Homo sapiens: one gene and its partners. The protein of the gene in region 1 interacts with the protein of each later gene in a pairwise test. Each region holds a gene or a part of one and is shown in the gene's direction. Other genes may lie near its edges.

Region 1 (3,121 bases):
GAGCAGGGGCGACTTTATTTATGCCAGCTAGAAGGCATGATATCATATGGCCTGGTTTCTGCCTGTCTACAGAAGTTGCCTGATAATTCCGATTGAGGTCAGTTCTGGGGACAGCTAGGGTCCCTACTGGGTTATGAGCAGCATCTTGTTGGTGGAGGGTGTTCTCATGGACCTGGGCACCCGTAAATATGTGTTCCCTGTCCTCCAGGGTGAGGGTAGAGGAGAGGATGACATATATGTCATGCCAGGTAAGGTCATAAGATTTAGGGAAGTACAGACATTCCTTGAGGAAGGAGGTAGGATCCATTGAAAAGGAGCAAAGTCTCTTTTCAGTATGGGAGAAGTCAGCTAGGGAACTTGAATTCAGATTATGCCTTCAGTCCTTGCAACCTCCTGCAAGGGAAAGACTTTGGAAGGCCTTTGGGCATGTGTCTGGTTTTCGGCAAAAGAGCGTTGGGCGTGAGACCTGGTTTGAGGTGGAGAAGGAAGGGGGATGGAGGGTGACAGTAAGGGGGTGGAGGAGCCGGATCCGAAGGAGAAGGTGGAGGGAATGGGAGAGGGCAGGAGCCAGACGAAGGGGTTTGTTGGCCAGGTTGAAATTCAGAGGAGGAAGGCTTGTCCCGAGGAGGAGGCATTTTGGGGGGTTTCTCCTTGAGGAGGAAGATTTGAAAAGGTGAACAAGATTGGCAGGAGAGTGAGTGAGGCATGAGCGGAGATAAGCAAAGCACTTCAGATCATTTACCATTGTGTTGGAGAAAGATTTTTAGATGATGTTGAATTTGAAAGTTGAATGTTTTGTTTTTTAGAAGAGGGGAGTGAATACTCTGGATGGGAGTGAATACTCTGGGGAAAGTGAGTACCCCAGAAGGGAGTGAATACCCCAGAGGGGAGTGAGTTCTCCAGAGGGAAGTGAATACCCCAGAGGAAAGTGAGTACTGGATTCCACCTGGGAGAAGGGACCTGGAGAGTTGGGACAGCCCCATAGCTATTCATGCTCCCCAGAGGACGGAGCGGCCAGAATGGCAAGTGTTCTGAGGCTGTCCCCTGAGAAGGGAGGCTGCAGTCACCTGGTGACTGGGGAGACCTCTCACCCAGCACTGGAATTTTTTTGGAGAACAAGCAGAAATAGAAAGGAATCCAGAAAGGAAGAATAGGGAGACTCACCCACGAATTGAAGCCCAGTGTTGGATGTGATGTCCAGCAATGGGGGTGATCCTGGTTGCAGCTGCTTGGGAAGGGGAAGGAAGGAAAAATAAGATGGAGAGTTTGATCAATATCTGGAGGTTAGTCCAGGGCTGGAGAAGATGAGAGAATAGGGGAAACAGGACTGGGAACAGACAGTCCACTCAGGATCTGGAAGTAGGCCCCGGTCTAGTTTGTGCTGCTTGCTGCTTTCTGCTTTCCAGGTTGCAAGAGAAAACTTACCCATTAGAACCCAATCACCGTCCTGGGTTTTGGCACCAAAGTGTTAGGTTTTGAAGGGAAGATGAGGGTGAAAGAAAGACAGACAGAGAGGGTGCATCTCAAACAACAACACAGGAATATTGCAGACACCTGTGGAAGTGGGGGACCAGCTTAATGCCAGAGCCCACTGCCGCTTATAGCCTGGGGTACTTACAGGTATGGGTGGGAGGGAGCTGGGCAGTATGGCTTGCTGCCCAGGAGGATATTGATAAGATGTTCTTATGATCAGGTGGTTTGGCCCTTTTTCCAGTGGAATATCATTGTGGTGTTCCTTTGCAGCTGCCTGGAAAGGGGAATGAAGGAAAAATAAGATGGAGAGTTTAATCAATATCTGGAGGTTAGCCCAGGGCTGGAGAAGATGAAAGAATAAGGGGAACAGGACTTATGATAGGGATGTTTCTTTAGTTGAGCCTTTGTCCACCTTGTGGTCAGGTGGTTAGGCAGGATGTTGCTCATGGCCTGAACCCCCATGGAATGTTTCACTTTGACCAAGGTCTGCAACATAGCAAAAACTTACAAAATCATGCAGTTTGGACTAACAGGTGACTCTACCCATGCTCCTCTTCTTCTTCTGCATAGATACCTACCCTATGATTTCACCTTGTTCTTCTCTGGCACACACCCCTTCCTCCACCTGCATTCCTTCTCATAAAGCCCCCCTTGCTATCTAGTCTCTATCCTATTCACCCAAAATAATGTCTTTCTGGCCTCTCCCTATTTTCTTACCAGATGCAAGAGGTACCAAACAGAGTCTTAGCCCCCGAACAGAGTTTGAAGAACACAAAAACATCAGAATATCCAATAATATTTGTGTATTACCTCAGGAAGGGTAAGAAAATAAATTCAAATCAACTGGAGAATGAACAGTCCCAAGAGAACTCCATCAATCCAATCCAAAAGGAGGAGGACGAAGGCGTAGACTTATCTGAAGGATCTTCAAATGAGGATGAAGACCTAGGCCCATGTGAAGGACCTTCAAAGGAGGACAAAGATCTAGACTCATCTGAAGGATCCTCACAGGAGGATGAAGACCTAGGCTTATCTGAAGGATCTTCACAGGACAGTGGGGAGGATTAGTCACACATGGAGAAACCAAATTGGACAAATCATCACCACTGATGGCGATGATTACAATAAAATCAAGTTTAAGGAGCTGATGACTGTGTTTATCTCTGCCTGTTGTCTGGTGTGGGGTGGGGAAGGGAAGGGAAGAGGTAGGCATTTGAGAAGGGAGGGATATGAGGTCCTGTAGGTTGGGAGACGGACCCACAGGTTGACAGTTAGCCAGACATTGCAAATAAGGACTGGCGGAGGACTGATTCCTCAGACAAATTTTCTTCTTAAAATTTTGTCTTACAGGAGAGGAAGAAAAGGACATGGTGTTTCTTGGAGCATGTGATTGTGTAGAAGGGTGTACAAAAAGATCTGTATTCGCTGGGCATGGTGGCTCATGCCTCTAATCCCAGCACTTTGGGAGGCTGAGACTGGCAGTCACCTGAGGTCAGGAGTTTGAGACCAGCATGGGCCAACATGGTGAACCCCTGTCTCTACTAAAAAATATATAAAAATTAGCCAGGCATGGTGTCAGGCACCTGTAATCCCAGCTACTTGAAGGCCAAGGCAGGAGAATCGCTTGAACCCAGGAGGTGGAAGTTGC
Region 2 (3,500 bases), on another chromosome or scaffold:
CACTGTTTCAGATAGATAGATCTCATTCTTTTAAATGCCTACATGTTTCATTTAGGGATGTCGTGTGTGTGTGTTTGTGTGTGTGTGTGTGTGTGTGTGTGTGTATTTGTGTATAGATATTAAAAATCCATTTTTTTTAAGAGACAGGGTCTCACTCTCACCCAGACTGGAGTGCAGTGGCATGATCTCAGCTCACTGCAGCCTCAACCTCCCTGGCACAAGTGATCCTCCCACCTCAGACTCCAGAGTAGCTAGGACTACAGGTGCACGCCACAATGCCCAGCTAATTTTTAGAAAAACGTTTGTAGGCCAGGCGTGGTGGCTCACGCCTATAATCCCAGTACTTTGGGAGGCTGAGGCAGGTGGATCTCCTGAGGTCAGGAATTTGAGACCAGCCTGGCCAACATGGTGAAACCCTGTCTCTACTAAAAATACAAAAATTAGCCAGGTGGGGTGGCCCATGCCTTTAATCCCAGCTACTCGGGAGGCTGAGGCAGGAGAATCTCTTGAACCTGGGAGGTGGAGGTTGCAGTGAGCTGAGATTGCACCACTGCACTCCAGCCTGGGGGACAGAACAAGACCCTGTCTCAATCAATCAATCAATCAATCAATGGTGTGTGTTAATTACATAATAAGAATAATGCTCACGCCTGTAATCCCAGCACTTTGGGAGGCCGAGGTGGGTGGATCACGAGGTCAGGAGTTCAAGATGAGCCCGACCAACATGGTGAAATCCCGTCTCTACTAAAAAAATACAAAAAATTAGCTGGGCATGGTGGCGGGCACCTGTAATCCCAGCTACTCAGGAGGCTGAGGCAGGGGAATTGCTTGAACCCAGGAGGCAGAGGTTGCAGTGAGACGAGATCGCGTCACTGTATTCCAGCCTGGGCGACAGAGGGAGACTCTGTCTCAAAAAAAAAATAATAATAATGCTAAATGGCCTATAAGGGTAATTAATTTGTTAAATGTGAATTAAAAGTGATCATTGTGAAGAATTTTTGACAACTTAGGAAAATTTATAGGAATAAAAAAAGCTGAATACAAAATGTTATGTATATGATAATTACAATGCTGTAAAAATTTTGTATGTATGTGGATAGCAAGGGCTAGAGAATAAAACCAGGAAAACTGAAAATGTTTGATTTGTTAAGCTATTGGGACTTACTATTTTTTTTATTTATTTTATTTGTTTTGAGACGGAGTCTTACTCTGTCACCCAGGCTGGAGTGCAGTGGTGCGATCTCAGCTCACTGCAACCTCCGCCTCCCGGGTTCAAGTGATTCCCCTGCCTCAGCCTCCCAAGTAGCTGGGATTACAGAAGCACGCCACCATGCCCAGCTAATTTTTTTATTTTTAGTAGAGACGGGGTTTCACCATGTTGGCCAGGCTGGTCTTGAACTCCTGACCTTGTGATCCGCCTGCCTTGGCTCCCAGAGTGCTGGGATTACAGGTGCAAGCCACCGTGCCTGGCTGGTACTTTTATTTATTTATTTATTTATTTTTTCTGAAATGGAGTCTCACTCTGTCGCCCAGGCTGGAGTGCAGTGGCGTGATCTCGGCTCTCTGCAAGCTCTGCCTCCCAGGTTCACACCATTCTCCTGCCTCAGCCTCCCTAGTAGCTGGGACTATAGGCGCCCGCCACCACGCCTGGCTAATTTTTTTTTTTTTTTTTGTATTTTTGGTAGAGACGGGGTTTCACCTGACCTCATAATCTGCCCGTCTTGGCCTCCCAAAGGACTTATTATTATAAGTTTTAAATTTATATTACAATATTGTATGCAAGGAAAAGTTTTTTGTTTTTTGTTTGTTTGTTTGTTTTCTTTTTTTGCTTTTGGGAGGATTTCTCTCTGTTTCCCAGGCAGGAGTACAGTGGCACAATCACAGCTCACTGCAGCCTCTACCTCCCAGGCCCAAGTGATCCTCCCTTCTCCTCAGCCTCCCAAGTGGCTTGGTATTACAGGTCCAAGCTACCATGTCTGGCTAATTTTTTTTTTTTTTGAGAGGGAGTTCACCCAGGCTGGAGTGCAGTGGCTAGATCTCGGCTCACTGCAACCTCCAGCTCCCAGGCTCAAGTGATTCTCCTTCCTCAGCATCCTGAGTATCTGGGATTACAGGCACCTGCCACCACATCTGGCTAATTTTTGTATTTTTAGTAGAGACAGGGTTTCACCATGTTGGCCAGGCTGGTCTTGAACTCCTGACCTTAGGTGATCCACCCATCTCAGCCTCCCAGAGTGCTGGGATTACAGACGTGAGCCACCATGCGCAGCCTAATTTTTTTCTTTTCTTTTCTTTTTTTTTGAGATGGAGTCTTGCTCTTGTTGCCCAGGCTGGAGTGCAATGATGTGATCTCGGCTCACTGCAACCTACGTCTCCCGGATTCAAGCGATTCTCCTGCTTCAGCCTCCCTAGTAGCTGGGATTACAGGCGTCTGCCACCACGCCTGGCTAATTTTTGTATTTTTAGTAGTGACTGGGTTTCACCATGTTGGCCAGGGTGGTCTCGAACTCCTGACCTCAGGTGATCCACCCACCTCAGCCTCCCAAAGTGCTGGGATTACAGATGTGAGCCACCACTCCCGGCATAATTTTTTCCTTTTTTTTATTTTCCGTAGAGACAGGGTTTCACTGTGTTGCCCAGGCTGGTCTTGAACTCCTGGCCTCAAGCCGTCTTCCCTCCTTGGCCTCCCCAAGTGCTGCAGTTACAGGTGTGAGCCATCATGCCCAGCCTGCAAGGAAAATTTTAATGGTCTACAAAACACAATAAAATAGCTGACTGTTTTTAGACTGAAACGATGAGAATATGGTGCAGAGAGCAGTAAAGATATTATTGTAATACTTTTAAATATTACAATAGAGTAATACTCTGGTTTTTTTTTGTGTGTGTGTGTGTGTTTTTTTGACACAGAGTCTCTCTGTGTCACCCAGGCTGGAGTGCAGTGGCGCGATCTCGGCTCACTGCAAGCTCTGCCTCCCGGGTTCACGCCATTCTCCTGCCTCAGCCTCCGGAGTAGCTGGGACTACAGGTGCATGCCACCGCCTGGTTAATTTTTTGTATTTTTTAGTAGAGACGGGGTTTCACCGTGTTAGCCAGGATGCTCTCAATCTCCTGACCTCGTGATCCACCCGCCTTGGCCTCCCAAAGTGCTGGGATTACAGGAGTGAGCCACTGCGCCCTGGCCAACTATGTGTAATACTCTTAAGTGAGGGGATGAAAAAGGAAAGTGTTTTTTTTTTTTTTTTGAGATAGAGTTTTACTCTGTAGCTCAGGCTGGAGTGCAGTGGCACCATCTTGGCTCACTGCTGCCTCCACCCTCCGGGTTCAAGTGATTCTCCTGCCTCAGCTGGGAGTAGCTGGGATTATAGGCACCCGCCACCATACCCGGCTGATTTTCTTATATTTTTAGTAGAGACAGGGTTTTGTCATGTTGTCCGGGCTGTTCTCAAACTCCTGACTTCAGGTGATCCACCCGCCTCAGCCTTTCAAAGTGCTGGGATTAT
Region 3 (3,500 bases), on another chromosome or scaffold:
GGTACAACATGAGCGCAAGTGAGGTACATTGTGAAGATGGAAGAGGAGGATAATAACACCAAAGGTGGGCATTATGAGAAAGGCTTTTCTTTCTTTTCTTTTCTTTCTTTCTTTCTTTTTTTTTTTGAGACAGAATCTCTCGCTGTCATCAGGCTGAAGTGCAGTGGCATGATCTCAGCTCTGCAACCTCCGCCTCCTGGGTTCAAGTGATTCTCCTGTCTCAGCCTCCCAAGTAGCCTGACCAACATGATGAAACCTTGTCTCTACTAAAAATATAAAAATTAACCAGGCATACTGGCAGGCCCCTGTAGTCCCAGCTACTCGGGAGGCTGAGGCATGAGAATCACTTGAACCGGGAGGCTGAAGTTGCAGTGAGCCAAGATTGTGCCACTGCACTTCAGCGTGGGGGACAGAACAAGACTCCGTCTCAAAAGAAAAAAAAAAGGTGTATTAAGGTGTGTGGGCAGCGAACCATGCAGGTTATTTTCTTTCTTTTTTATTTTTAAGAGACAGGATCTTGCTATGTCACCCAGGCTGGAGTGCAGTGGCCTGATCTAGCTCACTGCAGCCTCGAACTCCCAGGCTCAAGCAATCCTCCTGTTTTAGCCTCTCCAGTAGTGGGGACTACAGGCGCACAACCAACATGCTTGGCTGCTTTTTTGTAGAGATGAGGTCTCACTTTATTGCCCAGGCTGATCTTGAGCTCCTGGCCTCAAACAGTCCTCCCACCTTGGCCTCCCAAAGGCTGGGCCTACAGGTGTGAGCCACTGCCCTGGCCTCCACTCAGGTTCTTAAGCAAATAAGTGACATGAGAGAACATGTTCAGTAGACTTGGTATTGAGAGAGTTCCAATTTCATATCAGTCATTATTATGGTGATTTTCCCAGTATGAAGATTTCCCTGATCTGCTGAAGGAAAACCTGTGACCTCAAGTATCCATAGAAGGTCTCATTTTAGACAGCATTTCTTTCAGGAAGTCTTTTTTTGATTCCCCAAGACTGTTAGGTCTCTTTCCTTTGAGGTTCTCTAGCGTCATATACTTTTTCATATTATGGCATGTTATAGGTCATATTGCAATTGTCTGTTTTCCAGCCTCTGTTCTCTAGACTCTTAAGTTCCATGAGGTACCATATCTTGTTTACATTGTATTCTTGGGCTGGCACAGTCTTTTGTAAGCAGTTGGCACTTGAAATGTTTTAAAATGAATGAACTTTTTTTTTTTTTTTTTTTGAGATGGTGTCTTGCTCTGTTGCCAGGCTGGAGCGCAGCGGCGTGATCTCGGCTTACTGCAATCTCCGTCTGCCAGGTTCAAGCAATTCCCCTGCCTCAGTCTCCCGAGTAGCTAGGACTACAGGTGTGCACCACCATGCCCAGTTAATTTTTTGTATTTTAGTAGAGACGGGGTTTCACCATGTTGGCCAGGATGGTCTTGATCTCCTGACCTTGTGATCCGCCCACCTCGGCCTTCCAAAGTACTGGGATTACAGGTGTGAGCCACTGTACCTGGCCCTTTTTTTTTTTTAAATGAGACAGTGTCTCACTCTGTCACCCAGGCTGGAGTGTAGTGGAGCAATCATAGCACACTGCAGTCTCAACCTTTTGGGCTCAAGTGATTCTCCCACCTCAGCCTCCCAAGTAGCAGGGAGTATCATGGCCAGCTAATTTTTTATTTTTCATAGAGGTGGGGTCTCACTGTGTTGTCCAGTCTGATCTCAAGCGATCCTCCTGCCTTGGTCTCCCAAAGTGGTGGGATTACAGGAATAAGCTACCATGCCCAGCCTAAATGAACATTTTTGAATCTAATTCTAATACCACTGCAAGAGGATGGAGTGGAGGGAGGGAGGAAAAATCAGATCATTTTAGAGACTACAAAAGAATCTAGACTAAGGCAAGGAGAGTTGAGGATTAAGATTCTTCGGGTTTTACTAAAATTTTTGTTGCTGTAGTTACAATCTCTTTAATTCTGTTATTCTGAAGATCACAACACATAGGTGTTTAGAATGAAAAGGACTGAGAATCCTCTCATGGAACAAAGTGGACTCATTTCACTTGGCATTGCTTTCTCCCTCTCCCTTAGGGAGCCCAGATTCTGGGTCTCTCACCCTAGAGGGTCTTTGTACCTAGAAGTTAGGGTGAGCCCTGCCTTGCCATTGATTACGTTTACTTATTTCCACCAGCCTGATGACCGTGGTACAATCAATGACATCTCTGTGCTGAGAGTGACTCGCCGTGGGGAACAGGCTGATCATTTCACCCAGACACCCCTGGATCCAGGAAGCCAGGTTCTGGTCCGGGTAGATTGGGAGCGGAGGTTTGACCACATGCAGCAGCATTCAGGTAAAGGCTGGGATGGGGGACATAACACCGGAGCAGTTGCCATGTATGGGGATGCTGTGATGACTGAGACGTAGTTTGGGTTCTCTAGGAGTTAACCTTTTGGAAAAGACAGACTATTCAGAATCAGCTGTAATTCAGGAAGGATATCCTAAATGTTATAACAGCAACATGAACAACTGAAGTAAAAAAAAGTATTAGAATAACTGCTGGATTTAGGTATTATCAACTTCCCACTCGATATCTCCATCTGGATGTCTCACAGCCTTTTCAAACTCAAAATGTCCAAAATGAAACAAAAAGCCTTCCCCTCCCTCCTGGTCTTTCATTAGCATCCTGTGTGTTCATCGCAGGGCATCAGCATGCACCTAGTCACTCAAGTTCTGGAAGTCATTCCAGATACCTCTTCAGGCATAGACAGCCAGCCAATCACTGAGTCCTGTTGGTTTCTTTTCTTTTTTTTTTTTTTTTTTGACACAGAGTTTCGCTCTGTCACCCAGGCTGGAGTGCAATGGTGCGATCTCGGCTCACTGCAACCTCTGCCTCTCGGGTTCAAGCGATTCTCCTGCCTCAGCCTCCCGAGTAGCTGGGATTATAGGCCCCCACCACCATGCCCAGCTAATTTTGTATTTTTAATAGAGACGGTGTTTCACCATATTGGTCAGGCTGGTCTTGAACTCCTGACCTCAGATGATCCGCCTGCCTTGACCCCGCAAAGTACAGGCATGAGCCACACCCCCCCAGCATGTTGGTTTGTTTTCTAAATGTCTGTCCACTTCTTTCCACAGTCACTGTCATCCTAGTCCCAGCTCCTAGCTGTCTTCCCCCTGGACCTCTCTAACAGTTTCCTAATTGATTGCCCCACATTCAGTCTGGCTCCTCTGTAGCCCATTCTCCACATAGCACCAGAACAGTCTTTTTTTTTTTGAGTTGGAGTCTCGCTCTGTCGCCCAGGCTGGAGTGCAATGGCATGATCTCGGCTCACTGCAACCTCACCTCCCGGGCTCAAGTGATCCTCTTGCCTTGGCCTCCCGAGTAGCTGGGATAACAGGTGCGTGCCACCATGCCTGGCTAATTTTTGTATTTTTAGTAGAGACGGTGTTTCACCATGTTGGCCAGGCTGGTCTCGAACTCCAGACCTCGTGATCCGCCCGCCTCGGCTTCTC
Region 4 (3,500 bases), on another chromosome or scaffold:
CAATCCCTTTTCAACCTATGTCTGCTTTGTTTTTATTTTTATTTATTTATTTATGGGTTTTTTTTTTTTTTTTTTTTTGAGACAAGAGTTTTGCTGTTGTTGCCCAGGCTAGAGTGCAGTGATGCAATTTTGGCTCACTGCAACCTCCGCCTCCTGGGTCCAAGCAATTCTCCTGCCTCAGCCTCCCAAGTAGCTAGGCATGTGCTACCACACCTGGCTAATTTTTGTATTTTTTTTTTTTTTTAGCAGAGGCGGGGTTTCACCATGTTGGTCAGGCTGGTCTCGAACTCCTGATCTCAAGTGATCCGCCCACTTCGGCCTCCCAAAGTGCTGGGATTACAGGCATGAGCCACCGTGCCCAGCCTGCTTTGTTTTTAGACCTGGTTTCTCTTATGTGTCTTCTGACACAGTGCAGTTACACTAAAGCGGGTTACCCAAAGAATCTACCTGATGAAGAGAGTGAAGCTTGAAGGTCAGAGCAGACCAAGAGAGGCCAGGAGCAGAGCTCTTGTGAGACAGGGACCACGTGGAGGTTATCAGGGCTCTGGGCAAGGATGCTAATAGACCAGAGATGTCAGATGTCAGAATCCCCACCTTGACCAGTGGTTCTTCACCATTAATCCCTATCAGACCCTGATGACAGCCTTGGATTTCCCTCTCTCCTGGAAAATGCAAAGGCTCACACACCAAAAAAGTATTTTGGAGTAGCTTCAAGTTTCATAAACCCCCAGCTTCACCTCTGTGCTTCGCAGCATAGTAATTAAGGTCACACTCTGGATTAAATGGCCTAGGGTGAAATCCTCCTTTACTAGTTAGCTGTGTAACCTTGAGCAAGTTACTTAACTTGGTCTTGGGCCTCCAGTTCCCTCACTTTTAAATGAGGATAATCATAGCATTTGATTGTAGGATTGTTAGAACTAAATGAGTTAATGTATGTGACATTCCTAGCACGTGGTTAACTCTATAGTAGTGTTCACTATATAATAGTATTGCTGCCCTTGCACCTTAGCCCATTTAGTAAATGTTTATGGACAGAATGAATGAATAATTCTAGTTGAGATGCCATGCCTGGGGTAGAGCATTCCAATCAGCGTGTCGCAGTTGGTCTATAGGTTTTTTTGGGTTTTTCGTTTGTTTGTTTTTGAGACGGAGTCTCACTCTGTCGCCCAGGCTGGAGTGCAGTGGTGCAGTCTTGGCTCACTGCAAGCTCCGCCTCCCAGGTTTATGCCATTCTTCTGCCTTAGCCTCCCGAGTAGCTGGAACTACAGGCGCCCTCCACGCCCGGCTAATTTTTTGTATTTTTAGTAGAGACAGGGTTTCACCCTGTTAGTCAGGATGGTCTGGATCTCCTGACCTTGTGATCTGCCCGCCTCAACTTCTCAAAGTGCTGGGATTACAGGTGTGAGCCACCACGCCCAGCCAGTTTTTGTTTTGTTTTTTTCTTTTTTTTTGAGACGGAGTTTCGCTGTTGTTGCCCAGGCTGGAGTGCAATGACACGATCTCGGCTCACCGCAACCTCTGCCTCCCAGGTTCAAGCAATTCTCCTGCCTCAGCCTCCCAAGTAGCTGGGATTACAGGCATGTGCCACCATGCCCAGCTAATTTTGTATTTTTAGTAGAGACGGGGCTTCTCCATGTTAGTCAGGCTGGTCTCGAACTCCTGGATGGTCTATAATTTTGCCAAGATATTGATCCGCTCGCCCCTCAGGGCTGTCAAAGCCCCAGTTGGTCGCTTCTGGCTTGAAGCAGTGACATCTGCAATGTGAACTTCTGACTTTAAGCAGCAGCATCTGCAATGCAATGTACAAATATCTGTCTCTCTAGGTCCCCTGACATGAAAACAGTTTGGGTAGCACCAGTCAAAGATATCGGTTGGTAAGTCGTGAGAATCCAGTAGGCAGTCCAGATTCCAAGTCCAGGAGAATTTTGAGAATGGATGTCAAAGAGAGTCTTCACGACTGCACTGAGTTTAGAGGCCGTGGGCTTCCTGCAGGCTTCACAAGTGTTGGGGTCCACTGCTAGAGCAGGCTGCACACCACAGTGGGTACAGAAGATATCCTGCCAGCAGGAAGCTTCAGTGCTTCCCACCTTGCACATGAGGGACCCAGGGAGTCACTCACAGGATGTGTGGAGAGCCCACAGTGTGAGTTGCTGGAGAAACCACTGTGACGCAGAAACCAGGCTAGAGCCCAAAGCCTTGTGTAGGCAACGGACATTAAACAGATAGTGATGAGTACTGAAGTAGGTTGAGCCCAGAGGTGTGAGTGCTAGGAAAAGGTGGTACCTAGGCTGTGGGAGTTTATAACAACCCAGCCTTGTATGCAAGGTGGACTCTAAGAGCTGTAGGAAACTATGGAAGGGTTTTAGTCAAGGAAGTGGTATGTTTAGATTTGTACTCTTTTTTTCTTATAAATCTACTTTTATTTATTTACTTTTCATTAGCTTAAGTCCTTGAGGGGCACAGCGTCACACAGATTCTGTGTTCAATAGCTTTAGCAAGATTGCTTGGGAATTTAGCACAAACCATGCCACTGTTTCCATGGGCCTGAGTTTACCTTTCCCCAGATTATGCTGGTTTTCTTCAGTTTGCTGCCAGCAGTCAGTGTGTTGTTCTTTGCTTTATACATGTAAGTACATCTCTTGCCTAAATAGAATTAGTTTCATTTCGAGCATAAATACCTTCAATTTTTTTTTTTTTTTTTTTTTTTTTTTGGGACGGAGTCTCGCTCTGTCGCCCAGGCTGGAGTGCAGTGGCGCGATCTTGGCTCATTGCAAGCTCCACCTCCCAGGTTCATGCCATTCTCCTGCCTCAGCCTCCCAAGTAGCTGGGACTACAGGTGCCCACCACCACGCCCGGCTAATTTTTTGTATTTTTAGTAGAGATGGGTTTTCACCATGTTAGCCAGGATGGTCTCAATCTCCTGACCTCGTGATCCACTGTCCTCGGCCTCCCAAAGTGCTGGGATTACAGTCGTGAGCCACCGCACTTGGCCAATACCTCAATTTTAATAAGAGCTGTGTCCTCGCTTTGGTTCTGGAGGCCCCACTTACAGCTAGCAAAAAATGGCCTTGGACTACAGCCTTCCAAATGTATTGTATTTATCTTATTATTATTTTTGAGACAGAGTCTCTTTATCACCCAGGCTGGAATTCAGTGGTATGATCAAAGCTTACTGCAGTTTCAAATTCCTGGGGTCAGGCAGTGCTCCCACCTCAGCCTCTTGTGTAGCTAGGATTGCAGGCATGTGCCACTACACCTGGCTAATTTTTTTTTTTTTGTAGAGACAATGTCTTGCTGTGTTGCCCACATTGGTCTTGAACTCCTAGCCTCAAATAATCCTCCTGCCTCAGCCTCCCAAAGCACTGGGATTACAGGCATGAGCCACTACACCCCGCCCATATTTGCCTTTTGGAAGTCCTGTTCTCAGCAGGCCTCTACAGGCTCCAAGATAGTGGGAAGAGAGCTTTTTTTTTAAATTCACCCTGACAGCATAAACATGA
Region 5 (3,500 bases), on another chromosome or scaffold:
GACCTCTTTGTGAGAAATCCGGAAACTAGTTAAGAGGCTCCTGCATTCTAGGTGAGCAGTAAACCAGCTGCAGTGAAGATGGTAGGAAAATTCATCCTACTTGCTCACCATAGTTCATTCCCCTGGCTCAGCATGGCATGAGCAAGAGGAAACTCCAGGCTCCTGGTTTTTCCCTGGGCGGGGAAAGAGAAGACTGAAACATCTGTGTGACATTCAGATTTTTCAGAGGTCTGCCCAAGGGTCTGGTTTTTATTTTGCTTGAATATAAGTTCTGACAGGAAAGGGCACCAGGTTGCGGGGTCATTGAAAACAAAGTTGACAGTTTAGATTAGCAGGCACTCACCATGGTCCCTCCCCCTCCCTCAGCATGAAACCAGCAGGAGAAAATCCTCAACTCTTGGCTTCTCCTTGGGGAGACAAAAGAGTTGGAATGTGTGTCCAGTGTTTCACCTTTTCAGTGGGCTGAGGGACTGGCTTCTGTCTTGCTTGTCTTGGAAAGCTGACAGGGGCTGGTGTATTCCAGGTGCCCAGGAGCCACTGAGAACAGAAGACTTGTTGCTGCTCTAGAGGACCTATGGTAGGGCAGACAGAGGATGATACAGCTCAGCAGCTTGTCCCTACGTGTGGCATGAAAGGTGTTGGAGAGAGAATAGTGGAGTATGTGTCCAACATTCCAGCACTTCAGAGAGCTACCCCCAAGGGACTGGCTTCTGTTTCACCTGACTTGGAGCACAGGCAGGAGTGGACATACTCTAAAAGCCCACTGATGGGAAAGGGCACCAGGTTGGAGGCCTCTGAAAACAAGAGAGCTGGGTGGCTTGCAGCAGCTCCAGAGAACCTGAAGTACCACAGACAGATAGCACAGGGAGCAAAAGATTATGAGATCCTGAAAAAGGAAACGAACAAGTTCATCTTGAGAATTTATACACACTGGTCGAGAAGAAGCATCCTCAGGAAAGGTTCAAAAGGCATGCAGAATCTCTAGTCAGGCCGATCAGTGAGGATCTTTCTCTGTACAGAGCCAGACCACAAAGACTGGGAGGGGTGATATTTTTTCAAATGCTTGGATCCCAACATGATGTTAAAAGACACACAAAGAAATAGGGAAACATGGCACAATCAAAGAGTCAAAATATCCAGGAACCTACTTTAAGGAAACACAGATATCTTCATTATCTCAGAAGGAATTCAGACTAACCACCATAAACATGTTCAGTGACCCAAGGAAAATGCTGCATGAACAAAATGGTATCAACATAGAGATTGAAAACGTAAAAAGGAACCAAACAAACATTGTAACAGATGCAATATGCTTCTTTGACCAAATTGAAAGATTTACTAGAGGAGTTTAGCAGCAGTGTTTTTCAAGGAGAAGAATTAGTGAACTTGAAGCCAGGTCATTTGAAATTATCCAGTCAGAGAAGCAAAAAGAAAAAAAATAAAAAAAGAATGAAGACAGCCTAGAGTACTAATGGGACAGCATCAATTTTATCAATGTAGATTGTATGGAAGTTCCATATGTTGGAAAGAGAAAGGAGCAAAAAGCTTATTTGAAGAAATACTGGCCAAAACTTCCCAAACTGAAGGAAGGCAGTGGACATCCAGATTCAAGAAGCCAAATGGACTCCAGAGTAGAACAATCCGAAGACATCTACATGGAAACACACTGTAATCAAATTGTCAAAGAATTTTGAAAGCAGCAGGATAAGAACAACTTGTCATATACAAAGGAGATTCTGTGGGACTCTAAGTGGATTTCTTAGCAGAAACCTTGCAGGTCAGAAAGAAGTGGGATGATATAGTCAAACTGCTGGAAGAAAAACTGCCAGCAAAGTACTGTATGTGGCAAAACTTTTCTTTAAAAGTAAAAGAGAAATAAGATTCTCAAAATCTGAGAGAGTTCATCACCACTATATCTGACTTAAACGCCAATGGGAGTCTGTTAAATGGAAACAAAAGTATGTTCAACATGAAAGTATAAAATTAAATGATAAAGCTATGGACAAATAGAGACCTGCATATTATTGTAATGGTGGTGAGTAAATCACTTATTTCTGATATATAAGTCTAAGACAAAAGTTTAAGTGCCTGTAACTATAAAAATATTAATAGATGCACAACATAAAAGATGAAATTTGTAGCATCAGTAATGCAGTATGGGGATGGATGAGAAGAAGCAGTATTGTATGCAGTTGAAATTATCAGCTTAAAATAGGTTTATTAGAAGATGTTTTATGTAAACTCCATGGTAACCACAAAGAAAATACCTATAGAAAATACACACACACAAATAAGGAATCAAAGCATATCTATTAAAAAAAAAAACAGTGAAACAAAAAGCATGATGGCAAGAGAGGAAAGGAAGGACAAAAAAGTTTCAAGATAGAAAATCATTAACAAAATGTCATTGTAAGTCCTTCCCTATCAGTAATAACTTTAAATGTACTAAACTCTCCAATCAAAAGACATAGAGGGGATGAATGGATTAAAAAAATAAAACCAAGAGCCAGCTATACCCAGTTTATAAGAGACTCACTTCAGATTTAAGGATACTTTTTATTTTTTTACAGAAATGGATATACTGATTCTAAAACTGATACTGAATTGATAGGGATTTAGAATAGCCAAAACAATTTCGAAAAAGAACAAAGTGGGAGGATTCACATTAACTGATTTTAAAACTTAATACAAATGTACAGTACTCAAGAATGTGTGGTACTGGTATAAGGATAGACATATAGATCAGTGAAATAGAATTGAGATTGCAGAAATAAGTGCATACAGTTATGATCACTTTTCAATAACGATGCGAAGACAATTCAAAAATGTTATTTTCAAAAAATGGTGCTGAAATAACTGGGTTTCCACATGGATAATAATGAATATGGATCTATACCACACACCGTGTACAAAATTAACATAAAATAGATCAAAGATATAAATGCAGGAATTAAAGACATAACATTTTTTGAAGAAAACATAAGGGTAAGTCTTCATAACCTTGAGTTGGGCAGTAGTTTCTTAGATGTTATATCTAAAGCATAAGCAACCAAGAAGAAATATAGATTCAAATTTGTCAGAATTAAAAACCTCATATTGCAAAATGCACTGTGAGAAAAAATGAAAAGACAATCTACAGAATAAGAAAAGTATTTGTAAATCATATATGATAGTGGTCTATGATATGGTCTGAATGTTTGTGACTGTGTCCCTCCATTCATATGTTGAATCCTGTAATCATCAAGGGGATGGTATTAGAGTTACCATATGACCCAGCAGTTGCATGCTTAGCTATATTCCAAGAGAATTAAAGATGCATTTATTAAAAAAGTATATAAACTTACATATTATTTGCTAACAATGCAAATGCTCATTGGCATTTTTAACAGCATTATTTATAATAGCCAAAAGTGCAAATAACCCAAATGTCATCAGCTGATGACAGCATAAATATAATGTGGTATACATACAATGGAATATTATTCTGCTATGAAAATGAA
Region 6 (3,500 bases), on another chromosome or scaffold:
AAAAGAATTTAATTGTTATGAAAAAAATCTGAATAAAAATCCAAGGTTTGCTGATTAGAATTGTGTGTTCTTAAGTAAGTAACAATCTCCCCAAGGCATAAAATGGAAATTAAAACCTGCTCTTTCTTCTATGTAGATTTGTATATCATAATGGGTATGAAATAATTTTTAGTGTAAACTATAAAACAGAATTATCACCCAGGTGGGAAAAACCTTTGCTATGCAAAGCATGTTGAATTAATCATTTTGTAACACAAATATTTGTTGAGCTAAGTGCTGGAAGTAAAATCTTAAGCTAAAGAAATACCTGTTAGAATTCATAGAAGAGGTAAAAATTGAACAAATATTCACAATTGTTATGAGTGTAGAATGTCACAGGAGAGGAATGATGTAATTGTATTGGATAATGTTTCTGGTTGCACCATTTCATTCCAACATTTCTATGCACACATATTATCTTAAGTTTCTTAAATTAAGAATCTGTGCACAAAATATCTTAAATTAACAATCAAGCTGGGAGTGGTAGCTCAAGCCTGTACTTGTCCCAGCACTTTGGGAAGCCAAGGCAGGCAGGTCACTTGAGGTCAGGGGTTCAAGACCAGCCTGGCCAACATGGTGAAACCCCGTCTCTACTACAAATACAAAAATGAGCCAGGCGTGGTGGCAGGCACCTATAATCCTAGGTACATGGGAGGCTGAGGCAGGAGAAACATTTAAGCCTGGGAGGCAGAAGTTGCAGTGAGTTGAGTTTGCACCACTGCACTCCTGCCTGGGTGACAAAGTGAGACTCTGTATATAAAAAAAAATCACATACTTAAATTATGTGTCTATTTTAAGTTATATTGTATTTTCTGGGCTGAATTTTACTGTGCTGAATTTATCAGAAAAAATATACTATGATGTCAGTTGTCAACTTTGCTATTCTTGAAGGTCAGATGGCATATTCTTTCAAAATGCCAGGGCTCTCATCCCAGTGAAATATTTTCAGTTTATTTTCTGGAGGTTGGGGTTTTAAAGTTATTAACAGAATTACAAACAGAACACTTTAAAATCCATCTTCTGTAATTTGCAATGCAGCTTGTAGTCTATTGGGGCTGCTATAATGAAATACCATAGACTGGGTGGCTTATAAACAACACACATTTATTTCTCACAGTTCTGGAGGATGGGAAGTCCAAGATCAAGGCATCAGCAGATTCGGTGTCTGGTGAGCACACACTTCTTCATAGACTTCCATTTTTCCATTCTACCTTGATATGATGGCTGAAGAGGCTAGGTAGCTCTCTGGGACCTCTTTAATAAGGGCACTAATCTGAGTAATGCTAGATCTGTTCTTACGACCTAATCTCATTCCAAGGGCCCCATCTCCTAATGCCGTCACCTTGAGGGTTAGGATTTTAACATAAGAATTTGGAGGAGACATAAATATTTAGACCATAGCATGGCTATTCCATTACTTAGATTTTATATTAATCTCATAAATGCTATGTTTAGCCATGTAATCTATATCTTGACCCTATATAATCTTAAACAACATCCTTCCCTAGGATTTCCACATGTAAAATATCTAATTATAGATATGTTGTCTTTTCATATTCATTCTTTAAGACTTATTTTTTTCATATGTTAAAATAACCTGAGATTCAGTAAAATAAACATATACACCAAGGAATATTACATCTAACCTCATATTGTTCAATATTTTCCTTAGCTTTAATAGAATTATTTGAATATAAAATAGTTTCCTTAACATTGTCAAGGTCTTTTGAAATTCAAATGCAAAGACAGGACTTATAGGCTCATTTTATATGGGTGTGTGATTCAAAAGCAGAGACAGGACTCATAGGCTCATTTTATGTGTGTGTGTGTAAATATACACATATGCAAACACATACACACACATATACACAGATATATATGTATGTGTATGCATATAAATATATACACATCTCCATACTTCTAACTATATGTATATCTATCTACATCAAAAGAAAGATATCATGCAAACAGGGAAAACAAATATTAAATTATATAATAAGATTGCTTTTGTTTGTGTGTTTGTTTTTTGAGACAGAGTCTCGCTCTGTCACCAAGGCTGGAGTGCAGTGGTGCAGTCTCGGCTCACTGCAACCTCCGCCTCCTGGGTTCAAGCAATTCTCTTCCTCAGTCTCTCTGGTAGCTGGGATTACAGGCACCTGCTACCATGCCCGGCTAATTTTTTGTATTTTTAGTAGGGACGGGGTTTCACCATCTTGGCCAGGCTGGTCTTGAACTCCTGACCTCGTGATCCACCAGCCTCGGCCTCCCAAAGTGCTGAGATTACGGGCTTGAGCCATGGCACCTGGCCTGTAACAGAATTGTTTTTGAGAAATAATTTTCTCCTAAATGAAAACTTACTTTACAATCAGAACTAGTCTTTAGACATATTGTCATGTGGAAATTGTACATGATTGACAATAAAATGTGCATGTCTATCACTGATGTTATTTGTGGCTACCCCTACCTTACTTATATCACCGATCAGTATATCCAACACAAATTTTATGATGACTCATATATGTGTCATGAAGATTTGCAATAATAATTAGGTTTCCTTTTAGAAAAACATAAGGTATATTAAATCCTTAAATATCACTCAGGACTTGAATTTCCAAATTCCATTCTGAAGAATAGTCATGGAATCACACAAAGATGTCACACTCTTACATTTGCATCTTCCATAATGCAATGTCAGGGTAGTCTATAATTCTGTTTGAACTTCATCTGGCCAAAGAAGGAAAAAAAGAGGCTCATTCTGCAAAGTAATTCCATGTTAGCACACAAGTGTTAAAGAAAATCATTTTATGTTAAATAAAAATGCAGAAACTAGAATGAAGCTGAGCTTCAAATATTTTAATTATATAATGTTGTTTGTTGAACAGTTACAGATCACTCCAGTAAATCTTCTAGCTTCTAACTTACAGCTTCTAGTTTACAACATATTCTCATATAACCTTCAAGATCAACAGATAATAATCTTCAATTGTCAGAGTCACCCCGAATGATTTGCAGAGAACTCAGTCTAAAGGCTCTCCAGTTTCAAGGTATTTTTAATTTGGACAAGCTTATTCTGGCGTTTTTTTCTCCATCCAGATAAACTTGGAGAAAACTCCCACCAGATTTTTAATATCTCACAGTGGGAAGACGAGAGAAAGCAGCTGCAGGAGCATATAAAAGAAGTGGTAAAATGGACATTTTTATAGAGTTAAGGCTGCCAAATATAGACAGAATGGGAGATCCTTTCACTTCAAAACATCTTTTTCACAGAGCTAATCAAAGGTGTAATGTTGTAGACTTGTAAACTAGTTAAGATTACTGGAATAAACAGACTAAATTAATGATACTTCTGCCAAGATAAATGGAAAATCCCACCTAACGAGATCATACTCCATTGGTGGAAATGAGAGGGATTATGTTTTGTTTTTTACTCATAAATCATCAAATGGCCCAATGCCAAGTAT
Region 7 (4,225 bases), on another chromosome or scaffold:
CCCAGCAGGGAAATGACAGGAGGCGCAGCTTAGGTGTGGAGGCTCCAGGTGGCCGGTCCCCGCGCGGCTCAGATGAAGTGGATCCAGCTCTCTTCGCACTCCCCGCGAGGCATGTGCAGCGCGTGGTTGCGACATGTGAGGCTGTAGTCTCGGTGGTCGTTGTTGTCCCAGTACTCGGCACCCGCCACTTGGTAGCGCACCGCGAAGTGCACGCGGGAGCCGAGCTCCAGCAGGAAGGGCGGTACTGGAAAGCCGAAGGTGAAAACGTCCTCCGTGCCCTCGGGGCCTGCGGGCCCGCGCCACCGCGCCACCGCCTCGTGGGTACTGCGCCAGCCCGAGAAAGTGTAGCGCACAGCCACCTGCTTCTCGAAGGCCACGTTGCACACGCGCACCGTACCGCTGATGCCAAGGTCCGAGCAAGTGACACGCTCCAGGCACACGAGCTGCCGCTGCAGGCGCTCGCCAAAGTCGGCGGCCTCGACGGGCGGCGGGAAATCGGGCACCAGGCAATGCAGGGTGAACTCCAGGTCCTGGCTGCTGCAGCACAGGTCCGAGTTGATTGCGAGCCGCGACAGCACGTGCAGCGGCACGGACGGGTCGTCTCCCGCGTTGAACACCTTGACCTGTGCCAGCTCCAAGCCCAGGGCGTCGGCGAAGCGCACGCGGAGCTTCTGGCTGCAGCCCGGCCGACACGCAGCGCCCGGCGCGCCCGCGGCCTTCTGGCGGCGCTCGGGGGAGCTGGGCAGTGAGCGCGCCCGCCGCAGGATGATGGGCCGCAGGCGGGGGTCGCAGCCCGACGGCGCTGGCGTTGGCGGCGGCGCGCGGCCCGGGCTCCCAGGGGGCCTACAGGCCCGCGGCTCCAGGGCCACGCCGCCGTCCAGGTCCGACAGGCAGCTGAGGCTCCGGGGGCCGAGCTTCCGGGATCCCAGGGCGCTAGGCAGGACCGCGGAGCTCGGGCCTCTGGACATGGCCCCGCCGGCCGTCGGAAGATGAGGCAGGGATGAGAGACGACCTCCCGACCCCGCGACAGCTCCCTCCGTGCTCAGAAGCCGCAGAGAGTCCACCGTATCTGCAACCTGCGGGGGACCTCTCGGGCCCGGTGCGCCCTACCCTTGGTTCGCCACCTTGCTCCTCGAGTCCTTGTCCAGGTCCTCCGCTTCTTGCGGTTAAAGAAATTGTAAGAGTGGGGAGTTTTTCTCTAGTGGAAGCTTTCAGAGGCCTCCCGGGAGCGCAGGGTAGCGCCTCTTTTTTCTTCTTGCTTCCTTGGAGGTTCTTACAAGAAGGCTGCGTTCCGGGAGCGGCCCCTCCCACTTTCCCGGTCCGCGGCGTTACTTACAAGGCTGCAACTTGACCGGGTGCAACTTCCTAGCGAGCCTCCGCCCCGCCCCTCGTGACGCCGCCTGCAGGCGGGCCCCCGCCGGCCTCAGCTCAGCCAGGGAGCTCAGCGGAGCTGCGCGCCTCCGCCTCCAGCTCCCCTGCCGCAGCGCGCCGCAGCCGGGCGTCCCCGCGCGGGCGCCGGAGAGGAAGGAAGGCTGGCAGCCTCGTCACGTGTCCGCTGCAGTCGCGAAACAGGTCTGATCAATTTCTGTTTACGTCTGCCTGGATTGCGCGCCTATCGATCATAGACTTTGTCTGCACAAACGGAGGACAAGGAAAATGCATGCTGCGTGTCCTTAGATTTCTGGGTTGTGGATGGGGGGAGCGGTGGTGCAAAAACCGGCCTTGCCAGGAGCTGGTCTCAGGCTAATTTTAAACATCGAGGCCAGCCCACACTTTGGACAGGTTCACTGCAACCTGGACCCTTGGTCAGACCGAGGGAGCCTCACTGCGTAGAGGAGCAGCGTCATGTCCACATCACCCAGAATGCTTTGCCGCACCGAATGGCCAGCAGATTCCCTTGAGGGTGGGGAGGGGAGGTGCTGCTGTTGTCTTCCTGGACTCCGCGCCAGAGAGGAAGACAGGGGAACAAGAGTTATTACCCGCTGATGACTTCTGCAGCTGCCCTTAATCAGCCTCTGGCGCTTGGGGAGCATATTTGTAGCCAGAATCTCCGACTTTTAGCTTTGTTTCCAAGCAAGCCAGAAACACCAGCAAGGCCTGGAGCTTGTTTTCTGCCTATTTAGAACCCTGCAGGCATTCGTGTCTCTCACCCGGTAGCTTTGAGCACAAAACCCCACAGCCTTTGGTGTAAAGCATACCAGGTGAAATGAAGTAGAAAAGATGCAAGTGCACTTTCCAGAGAGCAGTTTGGGGCCAGCCATTCCATTAAGAAGGTTCCTTTTTATTGTCCAGAGGGACAAAGCAGAAAGAAAACCAGACTAATGAAAGGGGGTTGATTCAAGAACATTCGTTGCATCTAAAATGAGTCAAGGCTGTTGATTGTGGTATAATTCATGAAATGTGAGAGAATGATTTTATTTATCATTGGATGTAAGCTAACTAAAAAGGCTTACATGATTAATGTGGGAAAAATACAGGAAAGTTTCAGGAAGAAAATAAAAATCTTCTATAATCATCTCTTTTATTTTACAGAGACAGGTGATACGGGAAAGAGAAGTATCCAATTTCCATTCAGTGCACTTTTAATAGGCCACTCAAAATGAGAGGGGAATAACAGCAATATGTGGTATAGGTCAACAATGCTTCATAAAGAGATGATATATAATATGTAATATGTATGAATATATGGAAAGTCTTATAATGGATTGATGTGATAGAGAAGGCCGAAAAATTGAATGGGAACGTTCCTCCTAGAGTTTAAGCTCCTTCTGAACAGGGACGTGCATAATCATTGCCATTTTTCTGGGTACTCCTGTAATTATTTGTTGCATGAATGAATGATTGGGCAATGCAATGATTGAACGCTGTAATAAGACCTGACCTTATTTAGCCTTCCAGATTTCTTCAACATATTATTTCCAAGGAAGATTATACCTGTGTGTGAACAGGGAGAGAGAGAGAGAGATGGAATCCATTCACAGTATTTATAGTAGTGTGATCCTGTGATCCTGTCTCTAATATCTACTGTAATAAGCAGAAAAGACAAAGCTGTAAGCATAAGACAATGTCTCCCTTCCCCAGTATTTCATAACCTAGAGTGCAAACCACTATATGATCACAGCCTTAATATTTCAATATTATACAAGTATTAAAAAACAAGTGAAAAACCAACCCGATACTGGTGGTAGGACCATTTGCAATCAATAGTTACTGACAGTATTCTGTTGCTTCTAGTTCCGGTGGTGAGGAGACCTTTCCAAATATAAGAGGAATAAAGAAGTCACCTCCCCAGCTGTCATCATCTTCCAGCAGATTGAGCAAGAATATTTTGAGCACTACAGGAAAGGTAATGTAAACTTAGAAGAAAAATCTGACTTAGATTTATTCTGGGATTTTTGTTTGTTTGCTTGCTTGTTTCTTGTGTACATGTTCACAGTGTTTATTACTGCATCCCTGTTTTTAGACAGTCCATCAAACCCGAGATGATGATCAGCCACGTGATTTTTTCAAGAAGAGGAATAGGGTGAATGAATCTCATCAGAAAAGCAGGTAAATAGTTTTAGTATAATTGCTTTATCTTGCAAAAGACTCATTATCTCTGTTGTCCAGATTGAATATGTGGAGTGGGGAAAAAAGTATGTCTATAGATAAGAAATATACATTTATAATTTTTTTCTAGCAGAAATGAATAGAAAAGTGGTTTAAGCATAATAGTGGATAAGGATTCCAACGGTCATAATTCTGGCAGTTGTTAGCAGAATTATAATTTTGAGTAAGTCCTTTAATCACTTTTCTATGTTAGTTTCCTTTTATATAAAAGGATAGTGACAATAATTAATTTTTATGGATGCATACTGACAGGCAGGAACAAAATGTTTTAACAGTGTTATGAATTCTGAATAATGGAGATTCCTTCATTTCTTCATTTATTCAACATTTATTGAGCACACGTTGTACTATTGGCAATGATTTAATGTCCTGCATATTTATTAATTAAAATGTAGCACGTATTCAAATAGTTGCTTAGGTTGTTTGAAACCACTGGGCAAATGAACCTCTGAAGTTTCCAGAAAGCATGTTTACCACCCATTTCTATTCATTCTATCTGACTTATATTACAGAGAAGTATTATTAATCTTAAATGCCACGTTCTTGGTAAATAAATTGAAAAGAGGATATTTTCAACTCTGATGTGAGATTCAGCATCAGAATAAATTATGCCAGA

What was found.
Region 2: the proteins of SPANXN3 (region 1) and ZNF143 interact in binary tests that used the Homo sapiens proteins (3 or more experiments, as listed by UniProt).
Region 3: the proteins of SPANXN3 (region 1) and PTGES3L-AARSD1 interact in binary tests that used the Homo sapiens proteins (3 or more experiments, as listed by UniProt).
Region 4: the proteins of SPANXN3 (region 1) and ZNF76 interact in binary tests that used the Homo sapiens proteins (3 or more experiments, as listed by UniProt).
Region 5: the proteins of SPANXN3 (region 1) and SDCBP interact in binary tests that used the Homo sapiens proteins (3 or more experiments, as listed by UniProt).
Region 6: the proteins of SPANXN3 (region 1) and MEOX2 interact in a two-hybrid assay, tested with the Homo sapiens proteins (one large-scale study listed by BioGRID).
Region 7: the proteins of SPANXN3 (region 1) and FAM217B interact in binary tests that used the Homo sapiens proteins (3 or more experiments, as listed by UniProt).

Annotation. Positions count from the first base shown.
Region 1 is NC_000023.11:143,508,235-143,511,355, reverse strand, and holds the end of SPANXN3 (sperm protein associated with the nucleus on the X chromosome N3), read left to right. Parts: intron 1-2,193; coding exon 2,194-2,541; 3' UTR 2,542-2,621; downstream 2,622-3,121.
Region 2 is NC_000011.10:9,464,012-9,467,511, forward strand, and holds part of ZNF143 (zinc finger protein 143), read left to right. Parts: intron 1-3,500. UniProt on the Homo sapiens protein: Transcriptional activator. Activates the gene for selenocysteine tRNA (tRNAsec). Binds to the SPH motif of small nuclear RNA (snRNA) gene promoters. Participates in efficient U6 RNA polymerase III transcription via its interaction with CHD8.
Region 3 is NC_000017.11:42,960,029-42,963,528, reverse strand, and holds part of PTGES3L-AARSD1 (PTGES3L-AARSD1 protein), read left to right. Parts: intron 1-2,177; coding exon 2,178-2,337; intron 2,338-3,500. Other genes in the region: alanyl-tRNA editing protein Aarsd1, read left to right, coding at 2,178-2,337. UniProt on the Homo sapiens protein: Functions in trans to edit the amino acid moiety from incorrectly charged tRNA(Ala).
Region 4 is NC_000006.12:35,276,735-35,280,234, forward strand, and holds part of ZNF76 (zinc finger protein 76), read left to right. Parts: intron 1-3,500. UniProt on the Homo sapiens protein: May be involved in transcriptional regulation.
Region 5 is NC_000008.11:58,559,761-58,563,260, forward strand, and holds part of SDCBP (syntenin-1), read left to right. Parts: intron 1-523; exon of another isoform or gene 524-1,987; coding exon of another isoform or gene 1,988-2,035; intron 2,036-3,500. UniProt on the Homo sapiens protein: Multifunctional adapter protein involved in diverse array of functions including trafficking of transmembrane proteins, neuro and immunomodulation, exosome biogenesis, and tumorigenesis.
Region 6 is NC_000007.14:15,620,684-15,624,183, reverse strand, and holds part of MEOX2 (homeobox protein MOX-2), read left to right. Parts: intron 1-3,500. UniProt on the Homo sapiens protein: Mesodermal transcription factor that plays a key role in somitogenesis and somitogenesis and limb muscle differentiation. Required during limb development for normal appendicular muscle formation and for the normal regulation of myogenic genes.
Region 7 is NC_000020.11:59,938,964-59,943,188, forward strand, and holds the start of FAM217B (protein FAM217B), read left to right. Parts: upstream 1-1,425; 5' UTR 1,426-1,572; intron 1,573-3,234; 5' UTR 3,235-3,346; intron 3,347-3,463; 5' UTR 3,464-3,549; intron 3,550-4,225. Other genes in the region: PPP1R3D (protein phosphatase 1 regulatory subunit 3D), read right to left, coding at 69-968.